Homo sapiens: one gene and its partners. The protein of the gene in region 2 purifies or fractionates together with the protein of the main gene of each other region. This does not show direct contact. Each region holds a gene or a part of one and is shown on either strand. Other genes may lie near its edges.

Region 1 (7,010 bases), on a different chromosome or scaffold from region 2:
CCTTCCGAGTAGCTGGGATTACAGGCATGCGCCACCATGCCCGGCTAATTTTGTATTTTTAGTAGAGACGGGGTTTCTCCATGTTGGTCCAGCGCTGGTCTCAAACTCCTGACCTCAGGTGATCCAGCCACCTCGGCCTCCCAAAGTGCTGGGATTACAGGCGTGAGCCACCACGCCCAGCCTTGTTGTTTTCTTTTTAAGAGGGTGGGGAGAGGCAGAGGCAAGTGGAATTGGAACCAGGACCTAAAGTCGGCTCCTTTTGCAGCTTGGCTTCTGGGTGGGGTTGATGTCTGAGGGTGGGACCCCAGGGATCCAAGACAGAAGAAAAGCCAGTGTTTCCACTCCCACCTCGCCCTCACCCCAGACAAGCAGGTGATCAGAGGCAGCAACCGGAACTAGTTCTCACCCAAAACTAGTAAACAGGAATCCTACATCGAAATGAGCCCATCTTCTTTACACCAAGGTTGATTCTCCTTACACCTTGTGCACCTTCCCTGGAGCTATGGTTTAAATGTTCCTGCCAAAACTCAAGTTGAAATTTAACTGTCAATGTAATGGTATTAACGATGGGAACTTTAAGAGGAGATTAATGCTCCTATCTCAGGAGTGGATTAGTGATCTCAAGAATGGGCTTCAGAAAAAAGGACAAGTTCAGCCCCCGTTTGATCTCTCTGTCTAGTGTGCTCACTCCGCCTTCCACCTTCTGCCATGGGATGACCCTCCCCAGACGCTGATGCCACGTTTTTGGACTTCTCTGCCTCCAGAACTGTGAGAAATAAGTTTCTTTTTTTATAACTTACCCAGTCTGTAGTATTCTGTTAACAGCAGAAAACATCAGGTGAGGCCAGAACTCTGATGCCGCCCTTGACATCACCTTAGTTCCCTCCTGACTGGATCAGTATGATGTCAAATTAATTGCAATGGTGGGTACTTACTAATTTGCATTTACTTTTCATTACAACATATCCCACAGGATTCCAGGGACCTGGGATGGTCTGTATTCTTGGCAGTTCTCAAGATCTACGAGTCTTATTTCCTGTTAACTTTTTTCCTTTTGCTTGATCCTATCGGGCACATGGATCTTCCTAAAGTTTTGATTCTGTAATTAGTGCTACCATAAAAAACTGTACAATTTTGGAGAGTGTTTTTGCTCAGTCATTCATTTTCTAGTAATATTTGTTGTGTTCCTATCATGTGCCAGGCATTGAGCCAGGCTTGGGGTTCAACTATGAATAGAACAGTCCTGGCTGTCAAAGAGCTTACAGTCTAACAAGGGAGACTGACAAGAAAACAGGCAGTCACAGTGCAGTGTGGTCAGCACTGCATATGTGAGGTGGCATATGCAGAGGGTGGTGGCACCGAAGTGGGGGGCACTACCCAAGCCCAGAGCTTACAGCCTTTTTTTTTTTTTTTTGAGATGGAGTTTCACTCTTATCGTCCAGGCTGGAGTGCAGTGGCGTGATCTCGTCTCACTGCAACCTGTGCCTCCTGGGTTCAACTGATTCTCCTGCCTCAGCCTCCCGAGTAGCTGGGACTGCAGGCATGCGCCACCATGCCCAGCTAATTTTTGTATTTTTAGTAGAGACGGGGTTTCACCATGTTGGCCAGGCTGGTCTCGACCTCAGGTGATCCACCCGCCTCGGCCTCCCAAAGTGCTGAGATTACAGGTGTGAGCCACCGCGCCTGGCCAGAGCTAACTCCTTTATAGCTCTAAAGGTTTATTGCCAGGTTGCTCAGTAGCTTGACTGCTGAGGAAGATTTTCTTTCATTCAATCATTTCAGTGAGTATACTTTTCATTTCTAGATGTTCTGTTTGGCACCTTTTCAAATACACCTGTTTTTTTTTTTCCTTTACAATTCCTGTTCTTTTTACTAGTACTTCCTATTATTTATCTTTGCCTTCATTTGAAACCTACTTCTTTCCTTTTAATTTTCTTTGAGATGGTTCTATTATCTCAAGTTCTTCCTGTTTTGCCCATTCTCTCTCATGATGGCACGTTTCTTTGAGCGGCTCATACATTTTTTATTGTGAGGATTCTTTTTTTCTTCCTCTTGGAGTCTCTGTGAGCCCTGAGTTGTAGAAATACAGCTATTGTGCAGTTTAACATTTGCTTCTGCTTGGTACCCTACGGGTCTAACTGGTTTAGCTGATCTATTTTTCCTTCAATTTCTTCACTTGGAGAAATTGTTCGATCATTTAGAAATACTTTACTGAACATGTACTATGTGCATAGTCCTATATCTGATGTTGTGGAAGATACAAAACAATGCAAGACAACACAAAGTTGCTGCTTCACATGAAACTACAGTTTGAAAGGGCCAAATACAGTATAGGCCCAAAGTTAGGTGACCATGTAAGGCAGAGTAAAAGGCTCAACGGTGAACAGCCAAGTTCAGAAAGAAAAACAGACAGTTGGAGAAAAATGGGGACGAAAAGCCCAAAGAAGGAAAAGGTTCCTGTGAGGAAGTTTCAGAAGGATGGGGAAGTAAATCATCCTCCCCTACCCCCACCCCCCACCCCCAAACTAAAACCTATCGCCTCTTCTGGGTAGAGAGTTAGTGTGGCACTAGGAACTTGACTTTGAGGTCCTTATTGAGAAAGCTAAATCAGAACCTAGGCAAAAGGAAGTCATTTAAGGTGCTCCTGGGGGATGTTTGATGAAAATTGTGTTTGATGGAGAAAACACAGCAAGTTGAAAGGGTTAGCAGGCTTTGCAAGTGATTTCACTAGGACAAGCCTGGGTTAGGGAGGCCAAGGTGAGGGAGAGAGGGAGTGTGGCATGCTTTGAACGTGGAAAGTACATAGTGTTCATTATCAGGAGTGGGAAGAGGGGAGGTAGCTTTTTAGGGGGTAAGGCAGGAAGGGAGTTAGAAAGGACAGACTGGGAAACCCGGACTAACAGTGGCAGGTGTCGATCTAAAGAAATTTCTCACAATGAACTGGCTATAGACTAAGTACAGACAAAGGGACCAGGTCTTCCATTGCTGTGTCCCTGCACACTCTAGGATCCGTTCAAACAGAAACTTTTATTGCGAACCCCCAAAACTAGCACGGTTCTGTTGTAGGTGTTGTTGCAGAGTGTCGGGCACGTTTACAAACAGGAACAGGGCACTTGCTGTCCTATCTTCCTCGCAGGGTTCTTGTGACGATTACACTTAAATCAACACGTATAAAGCATTTTAAAAAGTGCCTGTCACATAGTCCCTGCAATTTAAGGTCTAGTTGTGATTATTCACTTGTATTAACTAAGAATCAACTACAGGCGCCTAGCAGTGCCTGCATGTGCTCACACTGAGGCACTCACTAAAACCCTCAGGATCTAGTGAGGGAGACAGTCAAATACTTTAGAGCAAAACAAATTTTACAACCACGGACTCTGAGGAAGGCGTGCGAAGGCTCCACAGCTGGGGAGGGTGCCCACAGTCGCCGAGGGGACATCTGGATTTGCTCTGGTTGGGAGAGCATTCCTGGCAGAGGAGATGGAAAATGCGATCGGACAAAGAGGCTGGGACCGCGGAGGGGATCGGGCTCGGGGTCGGGGCTCGTCCTGCAGCAGGAGATTCAGCTCGCGCAGAGTTCCACGCAGGCCGCGGCGACTGGGATCTGGGCCGCAAAGGGGCGGGCAGAGAACTGCAGAGAAAACTCCCGAAGCCAGGGAGGTGGCTTGGAAGCGCCTCAGACCATATTGGGGACGTCTGGCAGCCAGAGGCGCCGAACCCCGCCCCCGCGTGCTCTGGGCATCCCGGGGGAGCGCCCCGGCCTGCGGCTGCCGCCACAGCTCCCGAGCCCGGGGCCCCGGCTGCCCGCCACCATTGACCCCCGGCCCGCAGCCCAGTGTCCTGCTAGGCCTCCAACCGGCCGGGGAGCCACATCCGGCGTGTCCCACCCGCCGCACCACGCTCCCGAGCTCCCCCGCGGCCTGGAGTGGTGCGCCCCGGCCCCGCCCCCTGACGCCGGTGAGGGGGCGTGGCCCCGTCACGTGACGGGGAGTGACCTCGCCGCCGGGCGCCATGGGAGCTTCGGACCCGGAAGTGGCGCCCTGGGCTCGCGGCGGTGCCGCGGGGATGGCGGGAGCCGGAGCTGGAGCCGGAGCTCGCGGCGGAGCGGCGGCGGGGGTCGAGGCTCGAGCTCGCGATCCACCGCCCGCGCACCGCGCACATCCTCGCCACCCTCGGCCTGCGGCTCAGCCCTCGGCCCGCAGGATGGATGGCGGGTCAGGGGGCCTGGGGTCTGGGGACAACGCCCCGACCACTGAGGCTCTTTTCGTGGCACTGGGCGCGGGCGTGACGGCGCTCAGCCATCCCCTGCTCTACGTGAAGCTGCTCATCCAGGTGGGGGACCAGAGGCGCCGTAGGGAGATGGGAGGCTGATGTGAAGGTGACAGGCCAGGATTTGGAGGATTGGGGCGGGCAGTCAATGGCGACGGATTTGGGGAGAGGGGTGGGGACGGCGGGTTTGGGGGGCCGAGTGGGTGGGATGGGAGGGAAGCCGTGAGGGAGTTGGGAACGCAGGGGTCACGGGTTTTAGGATACAGAAAGGAGACCAAGGGGTTAGAGTAATAACAGATACGGGAGAGGGTGGAAGGAACAAGCGATTTGGGGGAGTGCCAAGGAGGGAGCGATGGGCTGGAAAAACATATTTGGGAGATAAAGGAGTGGGGACGATGGACTTGGGATAGGGAAGGGAGCGAATTTGGGGCGAGGGAAGAAGCAATAGAATTGGGGGAGGGGCAAGAAGTTTGGGTGAAGAGATGGGGAGGAAGGTTGGGGGCCCAGGCAAAGTGTTTAGAGAATGAGGAGCACATAATTGGGGTAGAGGGGAACGGAGGCTCTGGATTTGATAGAGATGGATTTAAAACGTCTTGGGGTGGGGACAAAGTGGGCGCCAGGGCCAGAAATTTAGGAGGGAAAGAAGGACACCAGACTGGGGGTGGACAGAGGAGACGGAGGTCTTGGGTTGCATTGTGATTTAATTTGGTGGGAGAGTGCGAAGGCAAAGACTTTTGCAGGGGAATGCTATCGGTTTACCGGAGATGGGGGCTCTGGATTTGATGGCGACGACGGATTTGGTAGGAGGAGGGGACAGGGTGACGCGTATGGGGGGAGGGGAACAGATAGGGCCAGCATTGGGGGAGGGGAGTGGCAGCGATTTGTCTAGAGAGGGGAGCTAGGAGGAGGCTTTAAGCGGGGAAGGGGGATGACGCATTTGGAGGAGGAAATGGAAGTCATAGTTGGGGTCAGAGAGAGGAATCACAGTGCTTGTATCTGGGCAGATGAGGAGAAGGGGCACGGGAGTATTGAAATTGGGCAGAAGGGACAGTGGAGACATAGGTGGCAGGATAGGTAGGGACTACCAGAAATTGAGACCGAGGTAGGGATGTCTCTGGAACAGAGGGATGCATAGGCACTTGGCAGATTTGGTGGTGGCCAGCAATGCGGTACAGATGAAGTGTGCTGCTTGAGGAGTGAGCTGGAATGAAGGGCGTGTGGAGGTGTGAGAATTAGGTGGGTGTGGCTGGGATGGGTACAGTTTTGATGGGGGTCATTAGGCCAGAATTTTCCAGTTAAGAAGCTTGGGGGGAGGAAGGTAAAAATTGAATTGGAGACCCATCCAAGATTTGAGTTGAGGCAGGTGGGTGTCAGATTTTACCATCTTTATAATTGAACCGAGAGAATGCAAAATACAACTGGAATGAGAAGGCCTTGAGAATGAGAGTAATTGAAATCTGGGATCCGAGGAATGGTAATAGATTTGTGGGTGTGACCAGGAATATGACAAGGAATGAGGAGATTCAGTCAGGGGCATCAAGGTGCCTGACTAGACCCTAATTGTGACAGATTTGAAAATTGTTGATGGCGGAAGGTGTAGACCAGACTGGCATTTGGTTGTGATTTGGGAATGAGGGCTGTCTTACAGGGTTAAGATTGTATTTACAGCAGTTGAACTTGAAGTTTGGGAGATAAATTGGTGCTTTGGACCTGAGAAGTGAGGGTTCTGGAAACTGATGGAATGAGACTGAGTGAGGGCTAGGATTTTAGGGCACAGGTGGGAGAGTCTGTGGAGTGAAGGATACTGGAGCACAAGGGCTCAGTGTGAGGGAAATGAAGAAGTGGCTTCATCATTTGGATGATGGCAGATCTGGTTTGAAAGAACATTGAAATGAGGGTGGTTTGGGAAGGGAATGGGGGAATGAAGGACACCAAAGCGTGAGAAGAACTAGATGGTGGGCAGGTAAGGATGGATGAGCCCTGTTGAAGGACCAGAGGTGCCTGTCTGATTTGAACCCAGCTGGTGTTGAGTGTAACATATATTAGGGTAAGATCTTCAATGGGTATAGTTTGGGAATCAGAGTAATAACTTGCAGAAAGGCAAATTACTGGGAGTGGGGGTGTCAGGAGTGGAGTGACAGATTTGGGGATTGTCTAGATTAGGTGCGTAAGAATGCAGTGCCTTAGATTAGTGCATGTGGCTGTCAGGTTTGGGAGTCGGAGATTTTAAGATGACAGACTGTCCCTGCTGGTATCTGATATAGGGCCACAGCATTTGCCGTAGTTAGGACTGGGTTAACAGATTTGAGGTTGAAATTGGGTTTAATGACTTGGGAACAAATAATTAAAACTTGAAGGCAGGAGGAATGGGGGTGAGATACAGCCAGTGTGCCTATGATAACCCAATAGAAGTTAAGAAAATAGATTCAACAGATTTGGGAGCCATGGGGATATGGGATAACGTTACAAATTTAAGTATGAAATTGGGGTCAGTGGGACTCCCAAATAGTGTTGACTAAACTGGATAAGGACAGCAAAAGAGCAGTTGTGGCGATTTGGAGTGGAGGAATAAAGGAATACCACCTGTATTTAAGAGAACACAGATCAAGACAAAACTTAATTCAGAACAACCTTGGAGCTTTTAACCCAGAAGGGAAAAGGTCTAGAAGGGAAGTACTCACTGCCTGGGTCAGCTGACTCACCCCTTTCCTCCTTTGCTCCACTGGGTCAAAATTTTTTTC
Region 2 (7,024 bases):
GAGAGAGAATTTCTGGACCTGGACGAACCCTTTGGTATTACCTAATGTTCATATGTTCATCATTTCCCTCACAAGAACTACAGCCTACACAGAGGTCAGGCGACTTGCTCAAAGTATGGCGATGGCTGTGGCAGAGCTGAGGTGTGAACTGTGGTCCTGACTCCCTGTCTGGTGCTCTTTCCATCTCACCGCTCTGCCTCGTGCATACAGCCACTCTCGTGCCCCCTGCCACTTTCCTCAGTATGGCCACATAGAAACAGAGGGCAGGATTTCCAGGTTAGAAGATAGCATGGCAACTGAGAACTTGGGCAGAGGGTCAGAGATAGAAGCAGCTGTGATAAATTGTGTTTATCTAGTTCCGTGGTTCCTAGGCCTGGGGCTAGCTGGGTCCAAATCACCCTGGGGCCCTTGCTAAGATGACAGCCATATTAAGTCAGAATCTTCAGAATAAGCGGGCTCAGAAATCTGTCATTTTGACAAGTGCCTCCAGTGGTTTCACATGAGCCAGGTTTTGGAGCTGCTGGTCTAATCCATTAAGACGATACTCTTCTCTGTCTGGGGTCTTTTCACAGATGACTGCAGAGGTATGTCCACCAGCAGCCCATGTGATCTGTCCAGTGGGAAGACAGCTGTCCTGCTGTCGATTCCTGTGTGTGCAGTGGTTCTTGCTCTCCTTGCAGGTGGCTCAGTTCTGCTAAATCAGGCTGGTCAGAGCCTAGCTACATATTTCCATCCAGCAGCCACTGGTGTCAGAAGGACGTTAACAGGGCGAGTTTTAGAGTAAAAGGAAGGTGACCCTGGAGGGTGTGCTAGCTGAAAGAACCTAGAGTCTGGGGAGAGGAAAACCTGTGGTCTACCCTGTTCTTCTCTTGTTACTGTGTAAACATTGACAAGCTGCACTGAATCTCATTTTTCCTCATCTTGAAATAGTTTAGGTGACCAATAAAGTTTCAAAGAGTTTCTAGGTATTCATTCATTCAACATTCACAGAACACTTGCCTTCTCCTGCACTGTTGCATCCCATATTGGGTTAGATGTTCTTTCTAGATGCTCTTTCGTTCCGTGTCACATGCACCATTGAGGGAAAGGACTGTGCCTTGTGTCCATTGCGTCTTCAGAGCCCAACCCTTGTTGTGCAAGAAGTGAAGTGAATGTTGGCAGATGTGTTGGGCTCTGTGCTAGGCCCTGGGGAAATGGTGGTGGATAAAACTTGGTCCCTCCCTGTCAGCATTTACAGTTCAGGGTCTAGGTGTGTGTGAGGTTGGGTGTAGTTCTAGAATTCCAGCAGGAGAACTCTTAGGTAGCACATGGAAATCATCCAGTGAACTTTTATAGACTACCTGTGCTTGGGCCTTAGTTTCAGAATTTCTGAGTCTCTGCGTCTGGGCAGGGTATGTGTAGGGGAGAGGCAGGTCTGGGCATCTGAGTTTAGATGAAGCAGGTGATTCTGCCTTGCAGCCTGGGTTGGGCACCACAGTTGTCAGTCAATTCCTTTTCACCCAGTTGTCACTGAGAAGCATGAGGCCCAAGCAAATTCTACTCCCTGAGTAGCTGGGACACGCCCCCATGATTCAGTTCCCAGTGTGCTACAATTATTGGTTGTATCTTTTTCTCCGTTCCCTCTAGCTGTTTGATGAAGACAATCCAGTACACAAGTCTGGAACCAGATACATGTTCACAACAGAGGGACACATTGTATCTGTGGATGAGCATCTTCGGGAATTGCCATGGAAGGAATTCTTCTCTGAAGAGGGAGGGCAGGACCAAGGGGGAAAGTCTGTGCACAGGCCGAAACCTCATGAGTTAAAAGTCATCAACTCCAGCTCCAACGTGAGTTGCTTTTTCCAGGGGTGATTTGCATATAGAGGAAGAGAAGATACTATGAATTGCTTAGTTGTTCAGACTTCCTGACAGAAAATTGATGGTGTATGCAGATTGGGAGATTTGAAAACACCTCCTAAAGACACCATTTACATAGCTGTTGTCAGGGTATAGGGAAACCGCAGGAGCAGCGGTGGCATCATCACTGCTGGCTGCAGGTGCTGGTGGGGAGAGTGGCTACAGGATCCTGGAAGGGGGGAGCCTTGTGGGAGGAGCGAGCACTCAGCAGGAGCCACGGCTCAGATCTGACTTTCAAGGCCTTGCCTGGAGGGAGCCGGCAGAGTCAACATGTGACCCCTCCCCGCTCCCCCAGTTGCCTGCTGGAGCATCTTCTTGGCTGCCTGGGGCAGAAGCTGGAGGCCGAGGGAGCCTGTTGATATGATCCATCAGTGGACCTGGAGGGGCAAATGGAAGACATTCAGCAAAATCATTTACCAGCAGCAGAAGGGAAAAAAAGCAGTGATGGTCACGATGGTCCCAATGAAGATGCTCTTCGAAGTGCAGCAAACACCCACATTCATTTAAAGTGGGGCTTTACTCCACATGCCTAGATTGTCCTGAGAAGCAGCAGGAAAAATTTGGAAATGGAAGTCCTTGCATCCCTAGTGAAAGTATCAGGTAGTTGTGTTGATTTGAATCAAATAGGATGATTTGGAAGTGAGGATAGGGAAATGTAGGTCAGTCAAAATTTCAAATCTTGTTATCCCCCAGGGCCTTGGTGGTCAGGAGTTCGGCAGCCTCCCCACAGATGGGTTGCCTTGGCATTAGGGGTGCCCTCTCATCGCCGACTGTGCTTCAGTGCTTTTCCGTTAATGCCCCAGTGAAGGTCTTCACCATCAGTCTATGAAGTAAATCGATAGGCCAGAGTGTAGATAACCACCCCCGCCCCCATTTCCATCAGTCATGGAGCGCTGATTGAGTGGACAAAGCATAATCGGGAGGAAGGGGAAGGAGGGTGAGAGGGGGAAGAGTTAATAACAGCCAGCATTTGCAAACACATACCAGGGTTAGCCTTTGCACCATTCTAAACGCTTACGTACATTAATCTGTTTACTTCTAACAACAGCCCTGTGAGGGGTGGTTACTTTTAACATCTCCATTTTACAGCTGAAGAAAGGGAGGCACAGAGAGGTTCAGGTCCCACAGTGGAGCCAGGATTTGGACCCAGGCAGTGTCTTCTCTTTTAGGAAGGAGACATCTCTGACCTGCCATACTCACTAATAGATCTGATCCCATGATTCCAGGCACCAGGGATTCAGGCCCTCAGAAGGGCTCCCGGTTCTGGATAGGAGCATGGCCTAGTGGGGAATCCACTTCCATCCTAGGCGTTTGTCTGTAGTGCTGTTGAAACACAGAGGGTAGGGAGTAATCTCCAGAGAAAATCAAGGCAGGATTCCCTGAGGAGGTCACTTGCTGGAGATCCTTGAAGGATGAAAAGGGGTATCCCAGAAAGGGTGTTCAGGCAGAAGCAGTAGCACCTGCAAAAGCACAGAGATGTGGGCTGGTGGGGGCAGTCGGGACCAATGGAAGGACCGGCCAGTCTTGATCTTGCCAGGGATGAGGAGCAGGGTGTAGTAAGTTCAACTTACTACAAAGCGTGGGGAAAATGTTTCTTTGGAGATGAAGCAGATAATGAATGTATTTAGACAACTGCTTCCAGGGATGTCACAGTTGGTTAGTTCTCAAGATGTGCATCTGCTTTGAGGAAAAAAAGTGGTGGGGGTGGGGGGGTTTTAATTAAAGAAATAGTCTTAAGCATTTAGAGTTTAGTGAGTTGTGAATGAGAAAAACATAGCTCAGAAAAACACAGTATTTTCAAGTAGCAGAAATGTTTTCTGAAATTCTGGGCGGACTAAGGACCCCAGGGATGTGGCTTTCAGTCCTGGCCACGAAGCAGTTGCTGCGATGCCTTTTAGCTTCCCTGGATCTGCCATTTCTTTATAAAGTGAGTGAGGATGTTAAATTATGTCACTGGTCTTCACCTGAGGGTGATTTTGCTCCTCAGGGAACATTGGAACAGCGTCTGGAGACGTTTTTGATTTTCACAGCTGAGGCGTAGGAGTTGCCACTGGCACCTAGTGGGAGAGGCAAGGGGTGCTGCTGACCGTCCTGCAGTGTACAGGCAGCTTCCACAACAGTTACTTCCAAACGTCAGTAGTTCACAGGCTGAGAAACCCTGGATTAAGTCATCCAGTCACATTTCCTGAGAGAGCAACATATGAGTTTTTAATTTTCCCTCGTTTTTGTCTTTCTAGTGCAATCGTGTACCTGATGAGAGGAGGTACTCCCTGCCCTTAAAGAGCATCTACATGCGACAGATTGACCAGATGGTTGGTTTGATTTGATCTGCTCTCTGTGAGGCCTCATCTTGAACCAGACCTTAACGACCAAACCCAGACCATGCCAAAGTCCAGTCTGAAATGAAAGGGGACAGAAGTCTTGCTGTCCATGGTGGTGTAGGAATTTCTGTGCAACACCTCACCACGTCTGGTTAATCCTTGCACACTTCAGTGTTTCTCTCCTGTTCAATAAAATGCCCTGTTAAGGATATAATTTGAAGTGAGAAGATACATGGAAATTGCCCTCTTATGACATGTTGATGTTATAAGCACAATAGATGGGGCATCTTTGGATTGATGTTCACAGCTTTATACTTCAGAACCTAAGTCTCTTCACTTTGCTGGCACCTGCTATACTGGAGTATTGCTATGTCTTTAAAAAATTTTTTTTATTATATTTTATTTTTTTGAGACAGGGTCTTGATATTTTTTTGGGACAGGGTTACCTGGGCTCAAGTGATCCTTCTGCCTCAGCCTCCCGAGTAGCTGGGATTACAGGTGAGCACCACTGTACCTGGCTAGCTACTTCTTTGTTAGAGGATTGAGAATGAAATTTCTGCAAAAGGGCCCATGGTTCATTTGGTATCCCTATTTAATTGCATTGAAAATGTCATCCTTTCTGTTGTTAGATAATTGGGGTCTTCCCCTGATATCCAACCGTGATTTTGGATCACATGGGAGAAAAAGTCATCCAGTTTTTCATGTTTGCCTCAAGTAATCTTTACAGTGTTACAAATTATTTGCTTAAGAAGAATGGTCTTAACCAGAATTCTTAACAGATAGTCTCTTAGGTTATTATGTTATGGTCTAAGAGGTTAACTGACATCTTTTGGGTGGTATTTTGCATTTTGAATATGAACTTACCTGAGGAACTCCCATAGTTCCAGAATCAGGTGCCTTTTAGGGAGAGAACAATACCTAAGATTGTCTGAGCTTCCATCTTTCTCATATTTCCTAAGCAAGGATTCTCACTTCTGACCATATTTGGGTTAGAGTTCTGTTTTGTTTCTGTTTTCTGTGTCTAGTGCCAATTAGCTAAATCAGGGAGAAAGAAATGATCACATGACTTTTAGCATCCTTGAGCCATTTCTCTGTGTAATACAGGCTTTAGATTAGTGCCTTATATTGGTTTTGGTTTGGGGCACTGGATGTCGCAGCTACTGCTATGGTTTCAGGAGGCCTGTTTAGCCACATGGTGAGACCGTGGTGAAAGGGGGATGGAAATTGCTTGGCCAGTCTTTGCCTTTCATCCTGTAAAAGTAAGCATGTAGAAGGAGGAAGTTGTGCTAAAATGCCTTTGTTTTTTTGTTATTATTTTCTTAGCCAGAACATCTCTCTTTGAACTCACACTGATACACACCTGCTACTCTTACACAGTGCAGCAGGGTTGACTCTTAGTCTGGCTTCCATGAAGCGTCATGGGTGGAAACGCATTCTAGTAAAAAAGGTAGGAAATCCCTAAAACTTCCAGCCTCACATAGCACGGTTCTCACCTGTCACTGTTTTCCCACCTCTAAGGATTTCATGTACATCTTTTCAAAGCTAGAAATAAGCACTGTCTAAGTTTATGTTGCATTTTTAGTCAAAAGGGAGAAATCTTATTCCTTCTTGAAAATTTTAAGTGTTATGGTTTTATATAGTTCAGTTCTTTGAGATTTTTGAAAAGAGTATTTTCAGTAATAAACGTGCCATCTCTATCTCTTAAACATTTATTACAACAATTGTTTTAAAATAGAAAAAATAAAATGCTTCTATTTTACCTTTTTTCATTTCAGAAGCATTATTCTGTTTATTAACAGTGTCCCATCTACTGAATAGAAAACTTTGAGAATAATATATATATATATTTTAAATGTTTTCACTGACTCATTGAAAATGTTAATTACACACACATGCATGCATGCACACACGAGCATACTTGTACCTTTGTCTCTGGGCAAACAGGTGGGACTGTTAGTGACCCATTTGGGAAAATAGAGCATCTCAGAGAAGGAGGTGAGTTCTTCCTGCCTGTGATTTCTCTTGGCGCTCCCCTCCTCTCCCGCTCTGGCTTCTGTGGCGGCAGTGGTGGGTAAGCACTCCAGTGTTCTCTTAATGAGGCACTTTGCCTGTCACTCGAGCAAGCCTGGGTGTTCCTTCCTCCTCATGCTCCTGGAATAGGGAATAGGGATCTCATGCTTGCAAACTACACAATGCTGCAGGTGCTTCCCAGGGGCCACAGGCTGTCAGGAAACGTGTTTTATGTTAAGTCACAAACCCACTTGACTTCTGGGTACTGGAATTAATACCAGTGGGTGAGACTGAGGGTGAGTGAGTTAGTACATATTAATCCTGGTTGTTGAGCTTCCAGACTACCCCGTCCAAAGTTTGATGCTATGTAGTCAGTGGTTTGTGGGGCTGGATGCCAGAAGGTTCTTTGAGCCAGTTTCAAAGGTTACTTGTTTTTTTTTTTTTTTTTTAAAGTCAGAATGTTAACAGCTGTGATATATCCTGCAGGGCTTTTGCAGTTTCTTCTGTTCTGTGTTCTGAAATACTGGGTAGAGAATGGCTGAGGAGGAGATTACCAGAGAAGTTGCTTTGCTCAGTGCTTTGCCCCAGGATTGCCTCAAATCTGAGTGGACTTCATCCTTTGCGGCGGCTCTGAGCCTGGCCCATCTTCCTATTCCCACGTGTAGCTAGTGTCTAGTGTCAGCTTTGCTCAGTGTGGTGGAAACATTTTGCAGAACTGTTGTAGAAAGCTGCCTTATAGTTGGCTTGACAAAGCATAATTCTCTCATAACAAACTTTCAAATCATTACAGTAGC
Region 3 (7,024 bases), on a different chromosome or scaffold from region 2:
TGCAACTTACACAACGGGAAGTAAACTGAGCAGGGAGCAGTCAAATTTCCAAAGAGCAGGTACAGGCAATGAGAGTCACAAAGTATGGAGCAGAAGTAACTTCCCCACTAGGAGACATGAACCTCTTTTGGATCAATCGAGTGGAAAATACTCATCTATGCCAAATATAAGTGTGAGATGTAGCTGCACAAAGTAGAATGTGAAAGGCCCAGACAGAATCACAAGATGCAAAAAGGAGGGATGGATGGTGCTTATATCTCAGTTTTTCCTTAAAAACATAACTCTTACAATGTCAACTTACCATTTGAAGGAATCCCAAAATCCAGATTCATTCTCACTCGTTCCATCACTCAGCAAGTCTTCGTTCACCATATCTGCCTTCTTCTGAACCTGCAATCAAATGTGATAAACCTTACTCCCAGTATGTCTCACAGGCATAAAACTGCCTCTCACTGGATATACACTGTGAGCCTGTCATCAATAGGGAATTATCAATCAATTCTCTCACAAACAGGCACAACCCCACCCAGAGTCTAGAAGGATTCAATAGAAGTATCTTCGCCAGGACATTCACATCATAACCTTATGTGAGGAGACAGCAACCTCTTTTAATTAGATGAACCCCATTTTCAGCTTGCAACATAGGCAAAGAGCCGCAAACTCAACTGTGCAGTGAAACCAGAAGCACGATTCAATGAGTCAACAGCTAGTTCCAGGGAAGAGTGTGGCTGCTGGGGGCTCTAGCTGTTGGGAGGGAGGTATTTCATGTTATGACCAGTTTTCAGGATTCACTAGCACAAACAGGGGTTTCTTCTTGGCAGTACAGTGACCATTTTTCTTCTCAACAATGGATGGCCTATTTTAGGTTTCACTGTGTGTAATGATTCTTTCTTCAAGAATATACTGTACTTGAATTTAAGGCACTAAGAGCTTCAACATTCAGAGAACGGAAAGTACAAGTCAAAAGAAATTAAATAGGACTATCATTTTATTATTGTTGAAAATTTCCATTGCCAGTTCCCCCAATATTGAGAAAAGAATCATCAACAACACTATGAATTGTGGCTATATAAACAACATAGCATCTATGAGAATATTTTATATAAGATGGGACATGTTCTGCACACCGAGATTACCCAAAAGGTACAATCTTTCAGTTGAGGGAAGCCACAAACTCACAGTTACAAAGACATTTTGCCTTAAAGCAGTATCCCTATAATTGCCATAGCAAATTCCAAAGAGACTCTTGGGCTGGTTCCAAGATACATATTTTTAAATGACAGCTGTCCAATAACAGAATGCCACTACTTTTACCAAACTCACCTTCACTTTAATAATTTTGCTTTTGAAGTTGTTGAGGACGATAACCACCTCATCAGCATCAGGGGGAGAATCAGTGCCATCGTGGCTTTGCGAGAAAAGAAAGATCAATATTACAAGGCACAATTCTCAAAAGGCAGCAAATGCTCTCAGAGCATCTGAGTCCATCATCCTTCTCATAAAGGAGTTTTCCAGATCCAGCTATCTTCTTGCTCCTTAAGCTCCTTCGAGCTGCACAGAAGCACGTGTTGAAACCTCTCTTTATATAAGGTGCATGCCCAAACCTCCTTTGTGAGTCCTCTTGCAAATTACCCATCACGTAGTGAGAGGCACCCATGTGTGGTAACCACATGGTGAGTACTAAACAACCGCCTGTGTTCACAAGCTCTGAGCCAAGCACAGAGCCTTCGATAAAGGAATGCAGGGAACAGGCCCCCTGAACCATTATTGGAACCACACTGCCTCCGCTCTTTTTTTTTTTTTTTTTTTTTTTTGAGACAGAGTTTTGCTCTGTTGCCCTGGAGTGCAGTAGAGCAATCTCGGCTCAATGCAACCTCCACCTCCGGGGTTCAAGTGATTCTCCTGCTTCAGCCTTCAGGTAGCTGAGTTTACAGGCACCCACCACCACGCCTGGCTAATTTTTGTATTTTAGTAGAGACAGGGTTTCACCATAGTGGCTAGGCTGGTCTCAAACTCCTGACCTTAAGTGATCCACCCTCCTCGGCCTCCCAAAGTGTTGGGATTACAGGCGTGAGCCATCACCCATCACTCCCGGCCACTACTCTTTAACTGGAATAGTGTTGTAAAGGAAATCTGCTCGCTCTTTCTGCCGGAGGCAACAATCAGTCAACAATAGGCCCTGTACTCAACCTGGTGTCTATACGCTACCAGAAAAACTGTAACAAATTCTATTTGCAGGCAGACAGGAGCAGAGGAAGAAAAATTAAATGTATGTTTCCCTACTAATCAACAGCAATGCCTAAAATTTCCAGTCACCAAATTTCAAGGTGCAGAAAGTCATAATTACAACATGAATTCACTGCATTTGCTGTCATCTAGCAGAGAGTAGGGTTCTCAGGCAAAGGAAGATTCTAATGGGGGTGGGGCCCTGAACAGCTAGGAAGAGGGGGCACCATGCTCCTGGGAAGGGGAGGGCTGGCAAGGGCCAGGGCATCCAAAAGGGAAGGAGTTCGGAAGTGCATCCCAAATTTTGTAAAACCTTATCTGAGGAAAATGTTATGTGGGAAAAAACCTTCTACTGTTTACAATGGTGTTATTATAATACAGAATTCTTCTATTTCCTGGGTAAGAACCAGGCACTAATCCACTGTTTCATGTGTGTCGCTACGGAGCTAATTAAGGCAAGGACATACTACAGAGTGCTTCAAATGTGCCCTAATGGAAATCATCCCCTACACAACCTGACGGGAAGCCTCTTCACACAGTTTAAAACTAATTTAAATTGTGTTAAGCAGAATTTATATCAAACTTTTTTAAAGGCAACATAATTATTTTTAAACTAATAAATATGTGCAGTAAACCTTAAGGTAAAAGCTGGCTATAGAGGGAATGTTCTTACTATGCCACCACAGACCAAGGAATACCAGCACTAACAGCACAGCTTCAAGACCAAAGCTTCCATGTACTGTGCATTTGCAAATCACTCAGGGTCAACACATACACTCTCTGGGCAGAAAAGTGTGGCTGTTCTTTCTTTCTTTTCTCCTTTCTTCAAGTTTCTCATCTGCCTATCTATGAGCCGCATCACACTGATAGAATGATTTGATTCTGGGATATTGTTAGCACAAAGGAATAATTAAAGAATAAAGCCTGACTATACTCATTAGCATCTATACCTCTTATTATCTAATTCTATTCTAACAATTCTTCCATATTTAATTTCCTGGAAAAACCACTGTTTCATCACATACAACTGCAAATTAAATTCATGTTGCCTGGCTAACTGCCAGGGTAGTATTCAATTAGAGCTAATGCTCATTTCTAAAAGTTCTGGGATAATGTAACTGCATCACTTACTCCTACCTGTAAATTCTATAAATATCTTCAGAGCGTCCCTTCCTAAGTCTGAGGATCCAAGCTCCTGGGTTGGCTTTCAGCTGAAAGTAGCCCTAGGACAAGAAGAAAAGTCCAGTTAGCTCTCTTCAAAACACCAAAATGTTATTTCTGAGGAACAGTTACTTCTATTTCTGAAATATCAATCAACTATAATGTGAATAACACAGTAAACAAATCAATGCAACTCTTAAAAAACCAAAACTACACATTAAAAACTCTAGCACAGACCAGGTGCGGTGGCTCACGCCTGTAATCCCAGCACTTCGGGAGACCACGGCAGGTGGATCAACTGAGGTGAGGAGTTCGAGACCAGCCTGGCTAACATGGTGAAACCCCATCTCTACTAAAAAAGGACAAAAATTAGCCGGGCATGGTGGTGGGTGCCCGTAATCCCAGCTACTCAGGAGGCTGGGGCAGGAGAATTGCTTGAACCTGGGAGGCGGAGGTTGCAGTGAGCTGAGATCACACCACTGCACTCCAGCCTGGGCAGGAGTCTCAAAAAAAAAAAAAAAAAAACTAGTACAATAAAGGCCAGTCACACCAATAAATCATCTGCTCTTTAGCTGTGCTTCAGGGAAGAATCAACGTGTGATGCATGAATAAGTGTTGCACTTCCAAAGAAAAGAAAAAGGCTGTCAGCTCATGAGCAATCTATTTTCAGGGGGCCAATTCAGTTATAGCTGAGTATTCCAGCATGTTTTTTCTTTTGACATGTAATTCTAACCTACAAATTTAGCTGAACTAATGATTTCTATATTGACCAAATTCAGCCCATAATGAATTTTAATCTCACTCTATGGTTAAGAATGCTAATTGCTCCATCATAAATTATAGTGCCCAAATTAACGTAACTACAATATCACTATCTGATGAACAGATTATTTACCAGATTGGCCATAACAATGGTGTCCACAATGACCGGGTTGGCTGAAGTTCCTAAGGTAAACTGTAGTCCCCGTGGAGGCTGGCCTGTGGTGATGTCGTAGCAATGACCTTCCAGTAACAGGTATTCCAGCTCATACTCAGCAGCCACTACACTGTCCACCTGCAAGCCAAAATCCAATCACTTGAATGCACTCAGAGACAACATGAATAAATCTGAAATGCATTATGCAAAGTAAAGGAAGCAGACAAAAAGGACTTACATAATATATGATCATATTTTAAGAAATTCAAGAAAAGACAAAAGTATAATGACAGAAAGCAGATCAGTTGTTGCCTGAAACCAGGCGAGAGGAGGCTACTGTCTGCAAAGGGGTATAAAAGAACTTTTTGGGGTAATGGAAATGTTCTGCATCGTGGCTATAGTGGTGGTTAATGACTGTATACAATTATAAAAACTAGGTTGGAAAGAGAAAGGAGAAAAAAACAATAAGGACGTTATTCTAAAAATACGAACGAGGATAAGATACTAAATGTTGAAAAAAATTAAAGACCTAAATGCAAAGACATCCTGTACTCACGTATCAGTAGAAAAACTTGCACACAACATTCATAGCAGCATTATTCATAACAACCAAAAAGTGAAAACAACTCAAATGTCCATTCGTGAAAGGATAAATGAAACGTGATATGTCCATAAATAAAATATTATCTGGCAAGTTAAAAAGAGTGAAGCGTCGATACATACTACAGCATGGATGGATCTTGAAAACAATTTGTTATGTGAAAGAAGCCAGTTACAGAAGACCACATTTGATTCTATTTAGACAAAATGTCAGAATAGGCAAATCCATAGAGATACAAAGTAGACCAGCAGTTGCCAGGGGCTGGGGAAATGAAGAGTGACTGCTAATGAGTATGGGGCTTTCACTGGGGATGCTGAAAACATCCTACAATTACATAGTGGTGATGGCTGCACAACTCCGTGAAGATACTAAAACCTCTCAACTGTACACGTTAATGGGGAGAATTTTATGGTATATGAGTTCCATGTGAATAAAGCTGTTGTTTAAAAAAATATCATACCTGAACACTGATGTCTCAGAGGCCCACCTAGACTATGATTCAATCTGCTGTATTATACATGATTAGGTATTTGGAAGCAATAGATATGGTCTTACCTCTTCTAAATAAATATTATCAAGATCATATGGTGTTCTGACAGATTCTACCATCCAGCTCTCAGGTGTGTTCAAATTCAGAGTGAACAGTGGAGACTGAGGCATATCCAAAAATTTTGCGATTGGACCCTTAGCAAAACTATTGTCTGAAGTGAAAGAAATCTCTGGTTCTAAGACATAACGGTAAAAGCTGAAATTGAAAAGGAAAGTGTTAGATAATTTTCGATGTGACAACAGGACTTGAGTGCACAGCCCTTACACAGGTAACAACTGGTTAAAACAAATTAGATTTGGAGGAGTACCCTTCCAGATTGGGAAAAGTGTTTCCAAAACCATCTTTGACCTTATGATGCCTCCTTGTGGTTGCTGCAGATGCAAGAAAAGGCAAACAAGGACAGCACTGAGGAGGAGTGCTCAGTGGTGGCCTGTGGTGATGTCGTAGCAATGACCTTCTAGTAACAGGTACTCTAGCTCATACTCAGCAGCCACTATACTGTCCACCTGCAAGCCAAAATCCAATCACTTGAACGGAGGCCACTCGTTCACATGGATGGCTGTCAGGGTCACAGTTAGGTCCTGGGCATTTTCCTCCCTTCAAGGAGGACTCATTTTTCTCTTTAAAACCAATTCCTAAATACTGATTGGGCTCTCAGGCTAGTCCTGAAAACACTAATAATGTAAACATTTCCCCTATACGAGAATAATGGTGGAAGCTGGGAACCCTTTGGTTACTTTCAAATGCTGTTTCAATCCACTTAGAAGCTAACCTATAAAACACAGCACACTGGCAAGTTAGAAATTTCCCATAGCCACAACGCTAACTGCTTTCTGTATCACTTTTTTCATAAATGACCATTCCAAAGCTCATGACAATATATAGCTAAGCAAGCTTCCTCTAACATGTATATTCCAACTTGAAATGAATATTCTTCTTTTAAGATGAAAAGCACAAATGGGGCCAGGCGTGGTAGCTCACACCTGTAAACCCAGCACTTTGGGAAGTGAGGCAGACGGATCACTTGAGGTCAGGAGTTCGAGACCAGGCTGGTCAACATGGTGAAACCCCGTCTCTACTAAAAATACAAAAATTAGCTGGGCATGGTAGTGTGCACCTGTAATCCCAGCTACTAAGGAGGCTGAAGCAGGAGAATCCCTTGAACCCGGGAGGCAGAGGCTGCAGTGAGCCAAGATCATGCCACTGCACTCCAATCTGGGCGACAGAGCGAGACTCCATCTCGAAAAAAAGAAAGAAAAGGCACAAATGCAAGCAGCCTGGGTTAATGCCACCTAAATGCTACAAACACACTATGTTCTTAGAACTTCTGATTAGAATGAAATTTGGCAAAACTGAACATTTAGTAAATGACCATTTCAAACATGATGTCCACCTATAAATCCATCTGATCCTCTAACATGCAATATCAGAACTTGGATTCAGTACAATTTCTTCAACTGTTTTCTTACATAGCATGTTTTACCTTTTTAAAGGCATGTCAGAAAGTTTGGATTGGCAGTTCATAAATACTCTCAGATTCATGTTTATCAGCTGAGCCAAAACCTAGAAG

What was found.
Region 1: the proteins of EDEM1 (region 2) and MTCH1 purify together in Homo sapiens (affinity purification with mass spectrometry; 2 studies listed by BioGRID and IntAct, with this or other methods). This does not show direct contact.
Region 3: the proteins of EDEM1 (region 2) and UGGT1 purify together in Homo sapiens (affinity purification with mass spectrometry, with the first as the bait; 2 studies listed by BioGRID). This does not show direct contact.

The regions. Positions count from the first base shown.
Region 1 is NC_000006.12:36,983,175-36,990,184, reverse strand, and holds the start of MTCH1 (mitochondrial carrier homolog 1), read left to right. Parts: upstream 1-3,988; 5' UTR 3,989-4,011; coding exon 4,012-4,332; intron 4,333-7,010.
Region 2 is NC_000003.12:5,211,693-5,218,716, forward strand, and holds part of EDEM1 (ER degradation-enhancing alpha-mannosidase-like protein 1), read left to right. Parts: intron 1-1,626; coding exon 1,627-1,830; intron 1,831-4,136; coding exon 4,137-4,226; 3' UTR 4,227-7,024. UniProt on the Homo sapiens protein: Extracts misfolded glycoproteins, but not glycoproteins undergoing productive folding, from the calnexin cycle.
Region 3 is NC_000002.12:128,171,198-128,178,221, reverse strand, and holds part of UGGT1 (UDP-glucose:glycoprotein glucosyltransferase 1 precursor), read right to left. Parts: intron 7,018-7,024; coding exon 6,938-7,017; intron 5,650-6,937; coding exon 5,460-5,649; intron 4,442-5,459; coding exon 4,283-4,441; intron 3,450-4,282; coding exon 3,364-3,449; intron 1,409-3,363; coding exon 1,324-1,408; intron 391-1,323; coding exon 302-390; intron 1-301. UniProt on the Homo sapiens protein: Recognizes glycoproteins with minor folding defects. Reglucosylates single N-glycans near the misfolded part of the protein, thus providing quality control for protein folding in the endoplasmic reticulum.